Homo sapiens: one gene and its partner. The protein of the gene in region 1 purifies or fractionates together with the protein of each later gene. This does not show direct contact. Each region holds a gene or a part of one and is shown on either strand. Other genes may lie near its edges.

The links.
Region 2: the proteins of SUSD6 (region 1) and STXBP4 purify together in Homo sapiens (affinity purification with mass spectrometry; 3 studies listed by BioGRID and IntAct, with this or other methods). This does not show direct contact.

The regions. Positions count from the first base shown.
Region 1 is NC_000014.9:69,696,112-69,707,084, forward strand, and holds part of SUSD6 (sushi domain-containing protein 6 precursor), read left to right. Parts: intron 1-7,283; coding exon 7,284-7,481; intron 7,482-8,492; coding exon 8,493-8,631; intron 8,632-10,973. UniProt on the Homo sapiens protein: May play a role in growth-suppressive activity and cell death. May be involved in the production of chemokine molecules in umbilical vein endothelial cells (HUVECs) cultured in THP1 monocyte LPS-induced medium. Plays a role in preventing tumor onset.
Region 2 is NC_000017.11:55,074,528-55,085,500, forward strand, and holds part of STXBP4 (syntaxin-binding protein 4), read left to right. Parts: intron 1-3,550; coding exon 3,551-3,667; intron 3,668-4,158; coding exon 4,159-4,208; intron 4,209-6,522; coding exon 6,523-6,656; intron 6,657-6,662; exon of another isoform or gene 6,663-10,973. UniProt on the Homo sapiens protein: Plays a role in the translocation of transport vesicles from the cytoplasm to the plasma membrane. Inhibits the translocation of SLC2A4 from intracellular vesicles to the plasma membrane by STX4A binding and preventing the interaction between STX4A and VAMP2.

The DNA of each region.
Region 1 (10,973 bases):
GCAGGTTTCCTGATGCCCTGCCCCCCTCAGCAGGCCCCGGCTTAACTGAGTGGTCAGGCTTGCAGCTTAGAAGCCAGAGTTCCTGGTGAATCCAGCCCTGCCAATTACAAATGTGTGGCTTGAGGCAGATCACTCAACTCAGTTAAGCCTTATTGTCCTTATCTGTAAAGTGGAGAAAATATAGTACCTGCTTCATGTAGAGAGAGAACCCAGAAGAGTACTTGGCACAGGTAATAAACTATCTGTTTGCAATAATTACTGTTTTCCTTATTCCAAAACAAACAGAACTATACATTTAAACACCTTTGTTCTCTGTATTGACCTTGCTTTTTCTCTGGATCTCTTTGCTTCTACAAACCATTGAAGGCTAGAAGTAGAAATATAACCTTTATATATAAGAAAGGGTTTTGAGAGCAAGCACATAAATAGTGCTTTTCTAAATAACTTTAAGAGACCCTTAGTGCTAAATGCCTCCTTCTTTCCACATCTTCAGCCTCACATTTCATGCCCTGTCGTGTGGTTCTGAACCTTTTCCACTGTTTTCAGATCCCCAGACCTGTCCTGACTGCTGGCCAAGGACTCCTTCACTGAGACTGTGCTGTCCACTACAATAGCCACTACTAGGTGGCTGCATGTGGTGACTGAGAACTTGAAATGTGTTTAGTCTGAGTTGAGGTGTGCTATAAGTGTAACCGGAAAGGGGTCCAGATTCAGACCCCAGGAGAGGGTCCTTGGATCTTCCACAAGAAAGAATTCAGGGCGAGTCCACAGAGTAAAGTGAAAGCAAGTTTATGAAGAGAGTAAAGGAATAAAAGAATGGCTGCTGTATAGACAGTATAGACAGAGCAGTGTGGCATGGGCTACTCGGCTGAGTGTATTTATAGTTATTTCTTGATTATATGCTAAACAAGAGGTGGATTATTCATTAGATTTCCAGGAAAGGGGTGGGAATTCCTGGAACTGAGGGTTCCTCCCCTTTTCAGACCATATAGGGTGACTTCCTATGTAGCCGTGGCATTTGTGAACTGTCATGGCTATGGTGGGGGAGTGTCTTTTAGCATGCTACTGCATTATAATTAGCATATAATGAGCAGTGAGGACACCGGAGGTCACTTTCGTCACCATCTTGGTTTTGGTGGGTTTTGGTCGACTTCTCTGCCCAACCTGTTTTATTGGTGTGGTCTTTTGTGACATGTATCTTGTGACCTCCTATCTCATCCTATGATTTAGAATGCCATGCCTAACCTCCTGGGAATGCAGCCCAGTAGATCTCAGCCTCATTTTACTCAGCCCCTATTCAAGATGGAGTCGCTGTCATTCAGATGCCTCTTATATAAGTGTACAGACTACTATGAGAAAAAGAATATAAAGTATCTCATTAGTGAATTTTTATGTTGACTCCATGTTGAGATGTAATCAGTCAACATATTTTTTCATATGTTGGGTTAAATAAAATATTAAGATTAATTTCACCTGTTTCCATTTATCTTCCTAATTGGCTACTAGAACATTTTAAATTACATCTGTGGCCATGTTATATTTCTGTTGGACAGCTTTGTGCTAGGTTTGTGATTTCCATCCATTCCTTCCTCCTCTCCTTAGTTTCTACTCTTTTTCTTCTTTGCCTCAGGCTCTTACCCTCCCTGGGTGCCGATGAATGATCACCTAGCCAGAAGGACACCCCAGGCTATTAGAAAAGCTCATATTTGAGCAGCTTGTGTCACATTTAACACTTACTTCATTGGTTTAGGGTAGAGTTGGCTGTGACCATGTCTGTCTTCTCTAGGTTGTAGGCTTGTAGTGGGGGCATGGTTCTGTTACCGGAAAGAGGTCCAGATCCAGACCCCAACAGAGGATTCTTGGATCTCACACAAGAAATAATTTAGGGAAGTCCATAGAGTAAAGTGATAGCAAGTTGATTAGGAAAGTAAAGGGGCTGGATGCGCTGGCTCACGCCTGTAATCCCAACACTTTGGGAGGCCGAGGCGGGCAGATCACTTGAGGTCAGGAGTTCGAGACCAGCCTGGTCAACATGGTGAAACCCTGTCTCTACTAAAAATACAAAAGTTAGCCGGGTGTGGTGGCACACGCCTGTAGTCCCAGCTACTCAGGAGGCTGAGGCAGGAGAATCGCTTGAACCCATGAGGCAGAGGTTGCAGTGAGCTGAGATTGCCACTGCACTCCAGCCTGGGTGACAGGGGACAGGGCGAGACTCATCACAAACAAACAAACAAAAAATGCACTATAGATAATTTAAATGTAACCTTCTCCTACTCAACCCTAATCCCTTTGAGGCTGCATGCATGTCACACTGATCTTTATATTCCCTGCTTTCCACACCTTGTTTTGAAGGAGCTCAAGTATTTGTTCTGTTTGTTAAATTGAATGCTTTGACCCCTGGGGCCTTTCCTGGAGCTTATTTTGCTTTGCTTGTTTTGGAATGTTGTAAAAGTTTGTTTTGTTTTAATTTGCCTCCTTCTGAAAGGTTGGCCTGCAAAACCAACAAAACCAGGGAACCTTTAGAAAGGCTGGTGAGGGTCCTCAGCAGTTAGTTTCTGCTGAGGGTGTCAGGCTGAGGCGACGGAGGTGGTGGAAGTATCAGCTAGATCATTTTGCGTCTCATCTGCATTGTTACCAGGGTGGACTTTGACTGAATGCCTACTGTGTGCACTCCCTGTGCTCACTGAAAGCCTATGTGGCTGTGGGACAGAATGGAAAGCAGAGAGGAAGCTAAAGATAATTCATTGATTTTTTTTCCCCCTGTAAAATTGTCTGGCTTTCTCCTTTTCTTTTTAAAATTATGTGGCACTGCCACATCAGGTGAGTTCATTGTCTTCCCAGAGTTAAGTACAGAGCTTCCTTCTGCGAACCTGGAATTGTCAGAGAATGATCCTGGTGCACAGATCAAGACAGTTTCTTGCCTAGACTGTGGCTTCTGGAAGCCACTGAACAATTTCTTTGCCATGTGGGTTTTGCCTTTTTTTAGTGTTCTTCCCAGGCATCACTGAGAGGGTCCTCTTCAACACCTGCTGTTGGCCAGGACTCTGCTCTTGGTCAAGAGGATCATATTTTTTCATGTGTTCTTTTTCTTTTCTTTTCTTTTCTTTTTTTAAACAGAGTCTCACTTTGTCGCCCAGGCTGGAGTGCAGTGGTGCAATCTCAGCTCACTGCAACCTCTGCCTCATGGGTTCAAGCAATTCTTGTGCCTCAGCCTCCTGAGTAGCTGGGTCTAGAGGTGTGCATCACCACACCTGGCTAATTTTTGTATTTGTAGTAGAGATGGGGATTCACCGTGTTGACCACGCTGGTCTCGAACTCCTGACCTCAAGTGATCCGCCCACCTTGACCTCCCAAAGCGCTGGGATTGTAGGCGTGAGCCACTGTACCCAGCCTTTTCACATGTTCTTAGTGTCTTAAAATGACTTGCCTTTTTTTTTTTTTTGGACCCTTTCTTCTTAGGCATCCTTATTTCTTCTTTGAACCTGGAGCATCTTATGACATACTTCAGCTTTTTTCTTTTCTATGACCTTCATAGATGGGCATAAAATAATTTTTGTACTGAGTTTATTTTGCCATACTGAAGCGGTGTTGTTGTCTGGGGTAATATCTGAGGTTCATTGTCCCACAGCCATGGAAAATTAGGATGCAGACACACCAGAGTGAGGTTAAGAGTGGAAGTTTAATAGGCGAAAGAGAAGAGCTCTCTGCACAGAGAGGGGTCCCAGAGAAAATGGGTTGCACTTCTGCAGTTAAATGAAGAAGGTTTTATAGATGAGCTTGAGGAGACCATTTACATAGGGGACGAAAGATTGGTTGGACCATGTGTGCCATTTGCATAGTTGTGAAATAGCTGGCCGTCCCACCCTAATCTTTTATTATGCAGATGGGTTCTCTACCTGGTGGGCACCATGTTGCCTGGTCCTTACTGTACACGTGGTGACAAAGAAAAGGGAACATGGAGCCTCCACTCTGAACACACCTGGCTTCCAGGTGGCCCTTTTCTATTGGCACAGCTGCTGGCATTCACCTGTGCAAGCTTCCAGCTTGCTTATCTATGCAGCTCGATTTTTCAGGCTGCTCTTTGTTAGAAAAGAAATGATTTTGAGGCTGCTTTTCCTTAAAAGGGAAACCTTGCTGAGGACTCTTTTGCCGTCACTATCTGCCTAAATAATTTCTTTCTAGCTCCTGTATCAATACTAGGATTGCTATAATGTTGACATAATCTAAGGGGTCTCTCCTACCTCTAGTCCATCTTATATCAAATTATAAATTTGCTTTTCTTATAATGCTACCCTTCTCAAGAACCTTCAGCGGCTCCCCCTTTTCTTTGACTATAATTATAAATATCTCCTTTTGTAAGGAAGGTCCTCTACAAGATGGTTTCATCACTCTTCATGTTATTTTTTTGGACTTTTAAAAAATTACTCAACCCAGCCAAACTGGGCTGCTTGCTGTTCTCAGAAGTTAACCTACATTTTCCCACTTCAGTGCATTTACTTCAAACTATGACCTCCCTTCCTGATGAAGTGAAGCCCCATCTGAAGTGCTACTTCCTCGGAGATCCTTTCCTAGGCTCCCCTATTCCTGCTTTGAACTTCCTCTCTTGTGGCACAAATCACATTATTTGACATGTGTTAGAATAAATTTGTATATAGAGTATCTTTGGAAGAATATGGTAGAAACTGGTGCAGTGACTCTGGAAAGAGGAACCCAGTGACGGGACACTGTGCACCCTTTTTGAATTTAATACCTTGTATATTTCCCATGAGTCTGTTTTTTTTGTTTTGTTTTGTTTTGTAAAAGTATTTTAGATAACAAAAACCTAATCCCTAAAGCATTACAAGAAAATACTGGAGAGTATGTTTATAAACTCAGAGTAGAGAAAGAGTCCTTAATCCAGAAGCCATAAAGAGAATGATTTTTTAAATATATGTGTGCACTTAATGGTCATATCCCTATTTGGCAAGAAGGACCTGAGGTGCTTATATTTTTGTCCTTTTTCAGAGCATAGCACAGTGACCCCCTACTCAGAATCAGTAAGTATTAGTTGAATTGAAATTAAACTGAATTACAAGTCACTTCTTTGCAGTCCTCACTTTTTTTTTTTTTTGACTTATTATGAGTGCTAGGTGACCGCCAGGATCCCGCTCAAAGATTCTGTGGAGATGTGGGTTTTATGGAAAGAGATACCCAGCAAAGCAGGAGTGGCTTTAGAATCAGCAGCTCTTCCCCTGAGACTGTCCTTCCCAGCACATTGGACTTGTGTGTGGGTCCTGCCTGCTTTCAGGAGCTGCCATGGGGTGCTCAGCATTAATTATGCCACGGAAATGAACCAATTAGACACAGTCCAAGGAGAGCCAGGGAGTAAGTCAGGGAGATCTGTGGCAGGCCTGCTGCCCTGAACAAAAGAGGGAAAGTGTAAAGGCTAAAGCAGTTTGCGGAGGTTTCTTTGGAAATCTAGCTGGCCAGCGCTCTGAACTACTTGGCCAAAGTTAAAGAGCACCAGAAGGAGTGTTTGCGTTTTTCTTTCTCCTGTTCAAGACTCTGGTGGTGGAGGAGAATAGGGACAAGTTGGGTCCTTAGAGGGGACTTGGGGGGAGCTTACTGGAGCTCATCTCCTAGTTTCAGAGAAGCTGCCAGACTTCTCTGGATCCCTGTGGCACCTACCCAGCTTTGTTTTGTTAATAGCTTTTTAAAAATGGCATCTTTTTTTTAGTGGCATCACCTAAAAAAAGAAAAGAAAAAGTGCCTTTTCTCCCCATCTCAAGTGATAAGCAAATTGAGGGTAGGGAGCCATCATCTCTTTTCCATTTGGTGTCCACTCCCCAACCTGGCTGGCAGTCAGCTTGCTTAACAGCCATTTGTAGATTGGAAAGAAGAGGCATGGGTGAGAGAGGCTGTGAGGGCACAGCTGCAGGGTGGTGTGGTCTGCCCCTCTCGTGGATGAGAAACTGCCTTATCTTGGACAGTCAGGCACTGTGGTGTGACTCTCAGTCACTCCAGGCCTGTCAGAGGAAATGAGAAAAAGAAAACGACCGTTCTTATTCTCATACAGATGTCCTTGTGATATTCAGGATGGGGGCAGGTTATTTGTCAGCAAAATTGAATTTCCTTTGGAAAACTTTTGGTCTTTATTGCATTCATGGTTGCCTGGCCATTCTACCTCAGCCCAACATTCCAAACAGTGATTCTGTAGTGCCCCCACTTTTACTGTTTTGGCTGGTAATACCCGGCAGTCCACCACCTGGGGTCTTCAGTTTTGCAGTGTCAGTCCAGAGTGGAATCAGAGGTTGTCCTTTTCCTCCTCAGGTCCACTCAGACCTTCCAGATCCTCTGACTTACCATTACTGCAACTTACCAGGGTTCCCACCATACCTAGGCACTGCCTGCCATCTCCCTAACTGACCAGTTTCAAGAGGGCAAAGGGGAGGTAACCTTGACACCCATACCCCTTAAAGGCCATGCAGCTCATGGGGTAGAAGCAATGTCTGCTGGTGGAAAGAGCAGAGGTTTAGAATCAGAAGATTTGACTGTGACCCCAAGCCTGCCATTTACCTTGCTGTAAGCTTGGCTAAAAGTCACTTAACTTTTGTGGCCCTCAGTGTCTTCTTCTTCAAAGGAGAGTAACGATAGCTGTCTCACAGAGTTGTCAGGACAAATAAGGCGGGAGGTGAAGGTGCTTTTGAAACTAGGCAGTCCTGTATATCAGTGGAAAATGTGGAATTTATCATGGGATAGAGACAGGTGGTGCCATTGACTACTATAGTCAGAGAATGGAAGATGCACAGGGGGTTTGGGAAGCCTCCCAGGGAATCTATCAGAAATCCCCTCTCAGGCCAAGAGTGCACGTTTTTATTATACAATAGAGTCTTTTCTGACATTGATAGTGGAAACAAGGCCAACATTTTTCCTCCTTTCACTGTGATTTATTATGTGTGTTACAGGCTTTATTACATAATACAGGCTTTATTAAAACTATTATGTCTAGATCTCTATAGGTTCAAGACTTTAGAGTCTGCCGTTCATTTATGGATGGAATTCTCTTAAGGCATGGTGGGGAGGGAGGGGGAAATGTTGCAAGCAGCCACTTCCCCTGTTGCCAGTATACTTCCCCTCTGTCAGTGGCAACCTGAGTTTCCAGGGTTTGGTTAACAGTTCCTCCAAGGAAAGGGTTATTTCCTCCTCCTGTGTTTCCTGTAGAGGCCTTCAGAGCTGCGTCACTGAGAGCAGACTCCTACTGGATACCTCACCACTGTACCCCTGCTCTCTCCCTGTCTTTGCAGTGTGCCCCCTACCACCGGAGCCAGAGAATGGTGGCTACATCTGCCACCCCCGGCCCTGCAGAGACCCCCTGACAGCAGGCAGTGTCATCGAATACCTGTGTGCTGAAGGCTACATGTTGAAGGGCGATTACAAATACCTGACGTGTAAGAATGGCGAGTGGAAACCAGCCATGGAGATTAGCTGCCGTCTCAACGAGGGTCAGTCTGGCAGATGAAAAAGGGATGCTGCTGGGGTTCTGCTTTCTGTTAACTCACAGGATGCAAAGCATGCTTCCTCCAGAGCACTCTTTGCTGTGGTGCAGCCCAGCCCCAGTTGATGCTCTGCAGCCTCCCTTCCTTGGGTCTTCATGTCTTTGTGGAAGATACTTGAGGTTGCTGGTGCATGTCCTATTGCATTTCATTGAGCCATCTGCCCTGCTCTGTAAAGCCCGTTTGATGTTCAGGATCTCTTGTTTGCATGGCCAAGTGTTGGTGACCCTTGACCATGTTCTGCCCTCACAGTGAGCACAATGCTAATACCTTCTCTAATGTATCGTCCATTTCATTTTTCCTTGAATGGAGCTACAGACCAGCTGGACAAAAGACCTCCCACCCTTACTGCTTCCTCCTGTCTTGCATGACAGGAAAATCCACCTGCTTGCAGGAAAGTGTGTCATATAACCATCTTTGTGCTTCCCACTCAGGCTTCAAGACCAGAGCATGTTTAACCCATGACACCCCAGAAATGGGTGGGAACCAACCTGAGAGTTACAATTAAAGCTGTGGATCTTAAGACAAGGTTTTATTACAGTCCAGTTTCTGTAAATTAATCCTGCCACTTGGGAAGAACATAGGTAGAACTTAAGATGGTGGAATGACATGCCCAGTTAAATTGTCGATGTTTACAAACTTCAAGCTTTTGAGGATGGGATCAAAGTGGTTTATAAAGGTAAAATCTCTAGGGTTAAGTGAGTTTATGTGTCAGATGGACCTCAAAGATTGGAAGTGAGGGGAATTTTTTATTCAGGAAACAGGATAGGGAAATGGTCCTTTTCCAAAAGAACTGTGTATACATAGGTCATTCTAAGCTGTTATTCCTGAAATGACCCTGACCGTAGGATGTCTGTATTGCACCATTCAGGAGGCATTTGACAAGATCAGCTGTGGGGCCCATCAGCTGTTTTGTGTATTTGGGTACAAAACCCTTCTGATGATGGCTTGTTTTTATAGATAAAGACACCCACACATCACTTGGGGTCCCCACGCTGTCTATAGTGGCTTCTACTGCCAGCTCCGTGGCGCTCATTCTCCTCCTCGTGGTGCTGTTTGTGCTGCTGCAGCCAAAGCTGAAGTCTTTCCATCATAGCAGGTGAGTCCAGTGGCAGAGCTGACATGAGACAGGCAGGTGCAAGCATTACTGTGGGGGCCAGTCTTTGGTGGAGGGTTGCTGGTGGCCCCAATCTCTGTGGGTCTGTGTGTGTCCAGGGAGTGGGGAGGGCCCTGCCATGTGTCAAACTCCTAGATGTGCCTACCATTGTGCTTATTGCTTTGCATACATTATCTTAATCCTCATAGGAACATTGCAGATGAGGAAATTGAGGCTCAGAGAGGTTATTCACTCAGGGTTATACCTCTAGATGACAACAGAGCTCAGAACTGAGGCTGCGCGCGGTGGCTCATGCCTGTAATCTCAGCACTTAGGGAGGCTGAGGTGGGCGGATTGCCTGAGGTCAGGAGTTTGAGACCAGCTTGACCAACATGGTGAAACCCTGTCTCTACTAAAAATACAAAACAATTAGCCGGGTGTGGTGGCGCGCGCCTGTAGTCCCAGCTACTCTGGAGGCTGAGGCAGGAGAATCACTTGAACCCACGAGGCAGAGGTTGCAGTGAGCCGAGATCACACCACTGCGCTCCAGTCTGGGAGACAGAGTAAGACTCTGTCCCATTAAAAAAAAAAAACAAAAAAAAACGGAAATCTGTTCAATTCCAAAGCCATGTCATTTCCCCTACACCAGTCGTTCTCAAAGCGTGGTTCCAGCAGCGTCAGGATCATGGAACTTGTTAGGATCAACCAAATGAGAAGCTCTAGGGGTGAGGCCCAGTGATATTGTTTAACAAGCTGTCCAGGTGATTTTGATGAACACTTAAGTTTGTGAGCCACTATCCTGCACTCCTGGTTCCCAGTCCCGGCTGCAATATAGAGGCACCTGGGGGAGTTTAAAAACAAATATCAACACTTGGGCCTCCATTCCCATTCTGATTTATTTGGTTTGGAATGGAACCCTGGCATTCACTTTTTATAAAAAGCTCAGTTTTTCTGTGCAACTAGGATTTAGAACCACTGCACCACACTAAGGAGAAACAAAGGAAGTGGATTTTCTTGCCTGCCTTTATCAGTTTCCTTTTCCAGTCTACTGCTTTAGCCACAAGTTGTCTAGGGGCGAGGAGCATGAAGGGCAGAGCTGATGGTGCTGGCCCTGAGTGGATTCCCGATGATGGACTTTTCTTCCAGGCCATTGTGGCTTCTGCAGTTACTTGGCCCTTCCTGGCAGTTCCTCATTCCCTCTTGAGGAGTAACATTTTTTATATATCTTCACAGTCCTTCATCAGTCACTGTTATAACTCACAAACATAAAGGGCCAAAGTAAACTGCATTCAGTAAAATGTTCCAAATTTGGATTTACAGACAAGGACCAGGCTAGATTTAATCTCTGTGTACTATGTGTGATTTTCTTTCTTTTATTTTGTTTTTGGGAAGAGGCTAGCAGTTATTTTTAAAGGCTATTAATTAATAGGATGAAGAGGATTTGAAGGGGATTGTTTACTTGAAATGATCAGCTATTTCCACCTAAAGTCAAACTGATCAGTTCTGCATCTCATCTAAATGAGGGAGTTTTCCCCCCTATAGTTAACTTGTAAGTTTGTTAAAAGTAACTGGCTAGTTTTGCTTGATTTGAGTAGAGGGGAGATTTGGTTTTCATTGTAGACCCCATTTAAATTTTGTGCTGTGTACATATATTACTTTTTAAGCCAAACACTATTTTGAGTAACAAAAGTCAAGCACATGCCAGTTTACACACTGCTTTCTTTTTTTTCTTTTTCTGAGACAGGGTCTCACTCATGTTGCCCAGGCTGGAGTGCAGTGGCGTGATCACAGCCTACTGCAGCCATGACTTCCCTGGGCTCAGGTGATCCTCCCACCTCAGCCTCCCTAGTAGCTGCAACCACAGGCATGTGCCACCATACCCAGCTAATTTTTTTGTATTTTTTATAGATATGGGTTTCGCCACATTGCCAGGCTGGTCTTGAATCCTGGTCTCAAGCAGTCTGCCCACCTCAGCCTCCTAAAGTGCTCCCATCAAACTTTCCCTTCCTTCCAAAAACCTCTGCCACTTCTCTCCTCTCAGAGTGTATGTAGCACAGATTTTACTGCCAAGAGCAGGTGAGGAAATTGAGAACTACTAACAACAATCTAGCAACAATAATATGGTCTAGCAGCAGACCATCTATATTTCTTGAATTGATGAGCTGAAAGGACACAGCATCACCTAGGATTGGCCTGAATCCAATGCTGAGGAAACTATTAGACAAGTCCAGATTGTGGGACATTCTTTGAGACAGCTGGCCTGGACTCTTTAAAAAAAAAAAAAAGCCAATGTCATGAAAGAAAAACTATAGTGGACTGTTTAACAGATTAAATGAGATGAAAGA
Region 2 (10,973 bases), on another chromosome or scaffold:
TTACTTTTGAAGTGAAAAATCAAGAGTGTTTAATATTTTATTTTTAAATGATATAACTTTCAAGAAAGTTCACATGAAATTATTCCTTGTTTTTTGTTTCTTTTTTAAGCTTGGGTTATTTGTAATCTCTCTTCCAGCTCTTAACTGAGAAACATTTTTGTCCTAAGTTGCCTGGTAATATAATTAATTCAGTTTTTCTCTCTTTTATCATAATCGGGTTCTCATGCCATTTCTCTTAACAAGACTCTAAGCCAGTAACCTGTCTCTGAAAACAGTCTTTAAAGAGTCTCTTTAAAGAGCTATTAATATGAGCATCTCAACATTCAACATTTTCTAAACCCAATATCAGTGGAAAAAAAGAAGGAAACCTTTTTTTTTTAATCATGAGATTGCTTAAAGAGACATTGACCAAGATGTTACAGAATTAAAATTCAAGTGTCTATTTGTAAGATAACAGATTCTTTTTGTAACAGTACATTTATTTTTCATTATAATTTTTTCTTTATGTTATTTATTTATTTATTTACCTTTTGGAGTTTTTATTCACCTTCAACATAAGAAATAAAACATTACTAGTACCTTTGAAGACCCACAGTGTTTCTCTCCAATTGCATCTCCCACCCTTTCCCTCAGAGATAATCACTTTCTTGGATTTATTCTTAACCATTTTCTTGAAAACTTTACTACTTGTGTATATATTCCTTAACAATATGTTGTTTAGTTTTACCTGTTTATCAACTTTATATAAATAGAAATATACTCTATGTATCATTCTGACCTGCTTTTCTTCACTCGACATTTTGTTTTTGCATTTCATCTATTTGAAGTTTTTAGCTAGTTCGTGTCTTCTTATTGTTTCTTGTACTCTATTGTGTGGATATACTACGTGTAATTATCCATTCTGCATTTGATGGACAGTCCAATTGTTTCTGTTCTCTTCTGTTATAAATGGTGCTAAAAACATTTTAGTGCATGTATCCTGCTCCACATGTGTAATAGTTACCTGCTAGGAGTAGAATTGCTAAGTTGAATAATTGTAAGTTTGGCTTTACTAGGTAATGCCTACTTGTGCTTGAAAGTGTTTGAACTAATTTGTACTCCCACCAGTAATGAATAAGAATTATTGTTTACCCCGCATACTTGCTGACCCTTTGTTTTATTTTAATTTTATTAATCTGGTAGTTGTAATAAGTGTTACATCATTACAGTTTAATTTGAATTTCCCTGGTTACTAATGGCTTTGAGACAGTGATGTGCTGGGACCAACTGACACTAGCTCATGAGAGCTGATTGCATGCATCTCTTCTCAACTCAATGTACAGTGATATCAGGTTGGTAGCTTGAAATCAGCTATAATGGGGTTATTTCTACCCATAAATGTTATAAACCAAGGTTTCCTCCTCCCTGGTAGCCAGTTGAGCATATATTTATCTCTTTATTAGGCATTTGTGTTTCTCTGTGAAATGCTTCTTCATATCTTTTGACCCTTTTTCAGTGGATTAGTTGTCTTTTTCATGTAGATGTATAGTGATTCTTCTGGTTACTAATCCTTTGTTAAATTACATGTTATAAAAATCTTCTTCCAAATTTCTGGCTTGCCTTTTCACTCTATGGTAAAATGGACACAAATCCAGTCATCCCTCCTGACTTAATTTCCATTTTTGTCAGTATTTTAGTTCTTTCTTTACTTTTAAGACCACAAATTAGACATTGATTATTTGTTTTGTGTGGTCAGCATTTGCTTAATAGACTCCATTTTTACCATTTTCTGTTAAGCATTCTTACATCTCAGACCTTCTCACTTGGTTTCTTTCTTCATGAGTACATATTTTAGAAATTCATGTAGTGAGGATCTGATGATAATAAGCTCTCCCCATTTTATTTGTCTGAAGAACATCTTTATTCAACTCTTGTTCTTGAAATATATTTTTGCTACATTTAAAATGTTAAGTTGGCATTTAATATCTTTCACTGTTTTTATTTCGTGTTTGTGATGTCAGCTGTCAATCTGTCATTTGTTTGCAATCTGTTTCCTTCTATATGATTTTAAGATATCTTTGGCTTCAATGTTCAGCAGTTTGACTATGATGAATCATGTGTGAACTTACTTTAGTGTGTACTATTTGGGATTCATTGAGCTTCCCGATTCGAAGAGCAATGTCTTCTGCCATTTCTGGAAATCACTAAGCTATTATCCTGAGCGATTTCTCTTTCATTCTTTGTATTTGTTCTTGTGTAATTCAGATTGGATGTGTGCTATAGCTTCTTCTGGCTGTTTTCTCTTTACCTTTTCTCCCCATTTGTATTTCAATTTTTGTCTTTCTGTTCCATTATGAGAAGTTTCTTTACCTCTGTTGTCAAGTTCACCCATTCTCTTTATAATTGTATCTAACTGGATGTCAAATCTATAAATAAAGTTTCTAATTTAGTTATGTTACATTTTTATTTTTGAGATGTATTTTTTATGTTATCTGGATCTATTTCAATAGTTTCTTGTGTATTATACTTTCAATTCCCTCTTATTTTTAAAAACATATTAAACATAATTGCCTTATATTTTGTATCTGCTCACTTAAATATCTGCTGTCTTTATAGATCTGATACTGTACTTTATTTCCTTCAGTTAGCTTTCATTCATAGAGCTTATTTTCTCATATGTTTAGTGATTTTTGTTTGTGTCTGTGAGATCATGTTCTATCAATGCATTATAAGTGGGAATTCTTTGAGCTCTGAGTTTTAGAAATATCTCTCCAGAGTTTTGAGTTTGCTTCTGCTAGCCTGGGACCAATTTAAAGTAAAATTTCAGCATATGGCTTTTTAGGCCACACAGATAATGTAAATTCTGGCCCCAAACCTGTGTGAATGGGGACTTTTGGTTAGGAATTATTCAGGAGAAACTTTTTTACTCAAGTCACCTGAGCCAACATCAAAACACTGTTTACCTCTGTGAAGTTTACTTCTTCCCAGTTCACCCATTGAGTTTCTTCTGTTTTCCATTTGTGACTGTTGAAACCCCAAACTGTAGGCCACCAGGGATCAGCATATACCCTCCGAACAAATAATGCTTCAGTGCTCTCTTACCCCAGTGGGCTCACTTGGCATCGCTGTTGCATGTCTCCATGGAATTCCTTTACTTCCTTGCTAGCTTTGTCTTACATCGTGTGTGTGTGTGTGTGTGTGTGTGTGTGTGTGTGTGTGTGTGTATCCAGCATTTTTAGTTATGTTAAATTAGTAGAGGTTTCTGTCAGCATCTGGTAAGACACATTGCAAAAACAAAACAAAACAAAACCATAAACTAATTTAAATGTATTTTACTATAAGAATCAATAAACTCATATACAACTTATCTCATAAAACTTGCAGTATCTCTGTGCAAATTAACTTTTAAATATGCAGTTAGTTACATGCCCCCCAAAATCAAAACATATGTACAGTAAGAGAAAAAGATAATTTGGTAATATTGAATATTAGTTCATAAAAACTGAAAATAGGGACCAGTAATGTAAAACTGAAGAAATGTGTAAATGCTCCTTTTGATATCTCTGTGCAGGAAAGTGTTCAGGATTTAAAAAAGAGAATCATGGTACTCGACTGCCAATTACGAAAATCAGAAATGGCTCGAAAAACTTTTGAGGCATCCACTGAAAAGCTTCTTCATTTTGTAGAGGTAAGTTTTTCTGTTCTATTACATTCATCTTTAAAAAATATATAGGCAACTGGCATATAGATAAATGTTACTGTATTTGGTACCTAGTGAAACATTCTCTAGTCTCAAAGCAGCAATGCTGGCTTATGGTCAGATTTAGAACTGCATACATGATGAAAAGACTGGCTAACATTTTATAGATTGTTTAGAGAAATAATTGAGACAAGGTGATGGGATTCCAAGTATATACTATTTTAATGAATACTTTACCAAAAATCCTGATAATGCATAAACATTATTTGATAACTACTTACCTTATAAAGAAATGTTTTCATAGCTGTTATATTTCTGAGTAAAACTGCATGTTAGTTCAATTGTTTGCACCCCCGCTACATAATAGAAGCATCAGTTTAATCCGTGGACAGAGGAGGTTATAAATATTAATGAAGAAAAGATATTTTTTAAAAACTGTCAAACTGATATATCTCCTTCACCATCTTGTTTGTTGCTAGGCTATTCAAGAAGTATTTTCTGATAATTCTACTCCTTTATCAAATTTAAGGTAAGAAAATTTAAGTGCTTTTTGCAGAATATGGGTAGTGATTAAATTCTTCATCTGGTCATTGTGACTCAAATACTAAAAATCTCTTAAATAGTCCTAAGGTGCTACATAACTCCCATTGGATGCCATCATATGGAAATAGATGCAAGGACATATTGTTTTGTGTCCCATCTCTGTTAAAGAAATTCCTGGAGGTATTTAGTCAATCATTGTAACCTTGTAATCTAAAATTATGGTAGAAACCACCTATCCTGTCTTTATCAAAAATTCTATAAAGATGAGATTAACTTAAAATTCTGTAATTGTCTTGCGTATGAATCAAAGTTACTGGTCACAGGTTCACTACTAAAAGTGTCTCAACCCAGCAGGTTAGTTGTTCTGGCAAACAGAATTTTGGAAAACATATTCATGCAATCATTTTCTTTCGTTTTCATCTTTCAGTAGCTATAAATAAAAGAAATATATTTGGAGAATATACCTCGATTGTCTCATTATTCATAATATGTTTTGGATTTAAAGTTTCTTACTAGAAGCTGGAAACATACTAATCAAATTTATTTATTTCAAACCACAAGTTTATGGTCATTTTGATACATGATGAAAGACATTTACAAAAGAAAGATTCTTGTTTATGCATTTCCAAAGTAATTTTTTTCTGCTCTCATAATAGCTGCCACTAGTCCTAGATACATCTTCTACTTCTAGCAATATACGCTTGCAGAAACAGGAAGACTCAATGAGGTTGGGTGTGATGGTGCATACCTGTAATCCCAGTATTTTGGGAGGCTGAGGCAGGGGGATCACTTGAGCCCAGGAGTTTGAGACAAGGAACATAGTGGCACACAGTGGGACCCTATCTCTACAAAAAAAAAAAAAAAAAGAAATAGCCAGATGGGATGGTGCATTCCTATATTCCCAGCTACTTGGGAGGTTGAGGCAGGAGGATTGCTGGAGCCCAGGAGCTCTAGGAGATTGAGGCTGCAATGAGCTGTGATCATACCACTGCCCTCCAGCCTGGATAACATAGTGATGCCCTGTCTCAAAAAGTAAATAAATACTCTACCCTTTACTGTGAAAACAGCAGCTTAATAAGTGAAGATATTTTTGGTGTCCACATAGCATTTTTTAATTTAGAAGAATATTTATAATTCACTTCTAAACTCAAGTAATGTTTTACTTCTTATGATGAAGGAACCTGACATAACTTCTTACTCTCCTTGCTGCTTATGATACAAGAAAACTCTGTGAATTTCATGATTATTACTCTCAGTAAGGATCTTAAAATAATCAGTAATCACATTTATTTCTTTATGGGCTAAGTGTGTCACCCACCCTCAGCTTTCCAAGGTCTTAGTTTTACCTTGACTAATAATTCAAAAGTTTTGTTTTAAAAATTAAGGTTAAAATGACTATTTAAAAGCCAGAGCCTGCCCTTGCCTTAAACTGCTTCATGGAAAAAAAGACAACTTTAAATAGCTACATCACGCAACATTTCATGGTGTCTTAGTAAATTAAACACTAGTAAAAACTGGTGCAGTCATTTCAATATAGCATATCCTCTACATGGATATTGGCCCTGGTCATTCAACACAGAATAAAGGCTATGTATTTGAATTTGAGAACTGATGCTTTTGTTACCCTTTGTGAATTAATATCATTATGCTTAGGAAGATGGAGTATAAATAATGATGATTTTGTCATCAGTTTAAATTTTTTTTTCAAGTAAGTTTTAGTGTAATTTTTTGAAGAAAACATTTAATTTTTAATTAGATCAGAATGCATTCATTTTAGGTGACATTTGCATTTTTTGAAAGTGATACAAATGCTCTAGGCTGTTTTTGATTCGAGGCAAAAAATGGAATAATTTAAGAGATAATTTCAGGAGCCAAATACATATATTGAATTTATATTTAATATTACTAGAAGTAATAATAAATGTATTTTAACAAATTCATGTTTATATGCTTAATTTGAATTTATACAGAACTAAATAAAATTATATCATGTTAGCAAAAGAGAAGCACTCACAAAATAAGCCCAACAAATGATTTAGGAGACAGGTCATCCTTCTATTACTTCTTTATCATACATGAAGTCAACCTAATTTTAAAATATTTCTACTTATTATGTCGTAAATAATTGAAAACAGAAATATTGTTTTATGTGAATTACTTCAATTTTGGTTATATGAAATAATTTCCTCAGAAATATAAATATTTTTGTACAAATCTATAACTGATACAACTTCAGATTTAGTAAAGATAGATGTTGTTTATTGTGTAGTAAGTTCAACTTTATTTTATTGCCTTCATAGTGAAAGAAGAGCTGTGTTAGCTTCTCAGACTTCCCTCACACCACTGGGAAGGAATGGACGTAGCATCCCAGCAACGCTGGCGCTTGAATCTAAGGAACTTGTTAAATCTGTTCGTGCCTTACTTGATATGGATTGTAAGTTTTCTGCATTTTTTCACTTTTTAAAAGTAATTTATTTAACAAAACAAATTGAAGTCAGACAGTTGAATTTCGTTATAGTGGCTTGCCTACAGCAAAGTTGATACCTAATCAATAAAAATATTAATGTACCAATCATAGGAGGAGAATATTTCCTTTATGTAAAGGCTCAGAATGAAGCTCTAATTAAGATATGCCTTTACATCCACTTCCACCCAAAGTTTCTTTGAAATGGCAGAATAAATGTAAAAATCAATCCGCAGCAGCACTGGAAACTGGAGGAGTGGAATCAGCATTGAGGAACTTGTTGTTAAATAATAATATCCCACAGGTGGAATAAGATTAAATGTACAGTCCAACTGAGCAAAAGACCCCAAAACACAAATATAACAGACAAAACTGCTGAAACGATGAGTTAAGCAGAACCATGGAAAAAACCCCAGGATCACAGACAGTGAAGACTGGGAACAGACTCTGGGGCAGTCAGCAGGGTAATTAATTAAATGGCTTGGAATAGCTGAACCAGTTCCCTAGTCTTCAGAGCTGCTGGCTCAGGCATATCCTCCTATGCTGGAGCCAGGAAAATACCTCTCTAAAGGAACTACATGAACTGTCACTAGATACCCCTAGAGTCATCATTGGGCTAGAAAGAGAAGTAAGGCAATGCTCTAAGTAACTTCCATCATCCCAACAGACAGAGAAATCCTTGGGGAAAACTTAAATGATTGGACATTTTCCTCTTTTTCTTTTTGTGTCTCTCCAGACACTTTTGTCTCTTTATGAATTTCAACTCCCTTTTTCTAACTACTTCTTACGTACTCTTTATTTTCCTGCAATGAAAATTATAATTTACCTAACTATACCTATAATTTATAAAAATCAACAATGTGCTAATGTACTGTAGAGGAGAAATAAGAGGGAGGTGATTTATAATAAAATTATATATATTTCAAAACATAAATGCTTTAGTACAGCTATACTAGGATATATAATGTAGTCATCAGATGCCTGCACCTAAACAGAGAATCACCACAAATGTGGCAACCATGAATGTAGACTGATACAGGAACATTGTGTTGTCATTTTAAATAGCATGAGCAGATTGTCATCAGTAATGTCCAAATGATTGTCCAAAATGGTGACCAATGGTAAAGTTCTGAAGAGAAGAAAGTAAAATCTTCCATTAATTTATATAGTAGGTACAAGCCTGGGAAATTTAATGTATATTAAAACTATGCAAAAATATTTGGAGTTTATCTAAAAATGGAATTTTGTTCCAGATTTTAGTAATTACAAACAGATTTTTTACCACCATAAATATCTAGTAGGACATTTAAACATTATACAGGACACAGAACAATTCTTTGTTGCACAGGACCGTTCAGTGTATCCAATAATGATAGGATGTTTAGCATTCCTAGTACCCTTTCACTAAATGCCAAAAATATCCCCAAACACTGTGACAATAGATAATGCCTCACAAATTTCCAAAAATGCCCCCTAGGTGCAATACCATTCTTAGTGGGAACCTCTATTGTTGATCCTTATTTAAAATATGAACCAACAACCAAGAATCACCTAATAATGGTCCAGGGGGAGAAGAACTGCATAACAGGGAGATTCTGAAGAGAGAGAAAAAAAGTCTTTAATTAAATAAAGATAATGTAATATTCTGAAGATAGCTATATTATATTCTTGAAATAAAATGAAGTTATTATCCTTAAAGAGAATCAATGACACATTGCATTCATAACACAAGAAGTAGTTGCATGCAAGAAAGCATTTTTTTTTTTAAGACATGGTCTTGCTTTATTACCCAGGCTGGAGTGCAGTGGCTCGATCTCAGCTCATTGCAACCTCCTCCTCCCCGATCCCCCATCACTCCCACCCCTAGGTTCAGGTGTCTCAGCCTCTCAGGTAGCTGAGACCACAGGTGTACATCACCATGCCTGGCATTTTTTTATTTTTAGTAGAGACAGGGTCTCTCCATGTTGCCCAGGCCTGGTCTTGAACTCCTGGACTGAAGCAATCCACCCACCTCAGCCTCACAAAGTGTTGGGATTAAAGCCATGAGCCACCACACCCGGCCAGAAAAGAGCTTTTAAAAAGTATTTTACATCTCCTTTTTCACTAAATGAAGATATTACTCAAAAAAGTTGTTTGATTATTAAATAATATAATTTATTTGAAGCACCTACCTATCACATTCCTAGCACAAAAAACATACTCGGGAATAAGTTTTGAATTGTGGTTGAACTATGTACATAGCACTTTTTTAAAAATAAGCTGTTCCATTTACCATTGCTGCAGAACAAATCAACCCAAAAGTTAATGGCTTAAACCAACAATTTAGTATTGTCTCTCATGGTCCTTTTGGTTAATTGCGCTCAGCTAGGCAGCTCATGTTAGAGCACTCTCACGTGGTTGCAGTCAGATGTCTGTTGGGGATGCAATATCTGATGACTCTACTGGGCTGGACATCTAAGATGGGAGCTCATCTGTGGCTATCAACTGGAACACCTACCTATATTTGGCCTCCCTAGCATGGTGACCTCAAGGTAGTTGAATTTCTTATGTGGTGGCTCAAGGCTCCAGCATAGGTGTTTCAGTGAACAAGACAAAAGCTGTATCACCTTTTATGACCCAGCCTCAGAAGTCACACAGCCTCGCTTTCACCATATTCTATTCATCAATGCAAATTTGAGGGGATGGGACTTAGACTCCACCCGTGTATGGGAAAGTGACAAGGTCTCTTTATAGAAGAGCATATAGTCAGAAGTTATTATTGTGGCCATCTTTGGAGAATAATATGTGATACATTACTGGGTCAAATGGTATTTCTAGTTCTAGATCCCTGAGGAATCGCCACACTGACTTCCACAATGGTTGAACTAGTTTACAGTCCCACCAACAGTGTAAAAGTGTTCCTATTTCTCCACATCCTCTCCAGCACCTGTTGTTTCCTGACTTTTTAATGATTGCCATTCTAACTGGTGTGAGATGGTATCTCATTGTGGTTTTGCTTTGCATTTCTCTGATGGCCAGTGATGGTGAGCATTTTTTCATGTGTTTTTTGGCTGCATAAATGTCTTCTTTAGAGAAGTGTCTGTTCATGTCCTTTGCCCACTTTTTGATGGGGTTGTTTGCTTTTTTCTTGTAAATTTGTTTGAATTCATTGTAGATTCTGGATATTAGCCCTTTGTCAGATGAGTAGGTTGCGAAAATTTTCTCCCATTTTGTAGGTTGCCTGTTCTTTCTGATGGTAGTTTCTTTTGCTGTGCAGAAGCTCTTTAGTTTAATTAGATCCCATTTGTCAATTTTGGCTTTTGTTGCCATTGCTTTTGGTGTTTTAGACATGAAGTCCTTGCCCATGCCTATGTCCTGAATGGTAATGCCTAGGTTTTCTTCTAGGGTTTTTATGGTTTTAGGTCTAACGTTTAAGTCTTTAATCCATCTTGAATTGATTTTTGTATAAGGTGTAAGGAAGGGATCCAGTTTCAGCTTTCTACATATGGCTAGCCAGTTTTCCCAGCACCATTTATTAAATAGAGAATCCTTTCCCCATTTCTTGTTTTTGTCAGGTTTGTCAAAGATCAGATAGTTGTAGATATGCGGCGTTATTTCTGAGGGCTCTGTTCTGTTCCATTGATCTATATCTCTGTTTTGGTACCAGTATATAACCAAAGGACTATAAATCATGCTGCTATAAAGACACATGCACATGTATGTTTATTGCGGCATTATTCACAATAGCAAAGACTTGGAACCAACCCAAATGTCCAACAATGATAGACTGGATTAAGAAAATGTGGCACATACACACCATGGAATACTATGCAGCCATAAAAATGATGAGTTCGTGTCCTTTGTAGGGACATGGATGAAATTGGAAATCATCATTCTCAGTAAACTATCACAAGAACAAAAAACCAAACACCGCATATTCTCACTCATAGGTGGGAATTGAACAATGAGAACACATGGACACAGGAAGGGGAACATCACACTCTGGGGACTGTTGTGGGGTGGGTGGAGGGGGGAGGGATGGCAGTGGGAGATATACCTAATGCTAGATGACGAGTTAGTGGGTGCAGCGCACCAGCAAGGCACATGTATACATATGTAACTAACCTGCATATTGTGCACATGTACCCTAAAACTTAAAGTATAATAAAAAAAAAGTGATACATTAGTATAAGTTAAATACAAGTTAATTTAGTTGGGATGGCTCAATAATCATTATTACAAGTACCCATTAATATATGGCATATTAGTAGATTAGTGTGTTAGATTTTGGTTGTTTTTCTGTCTCTT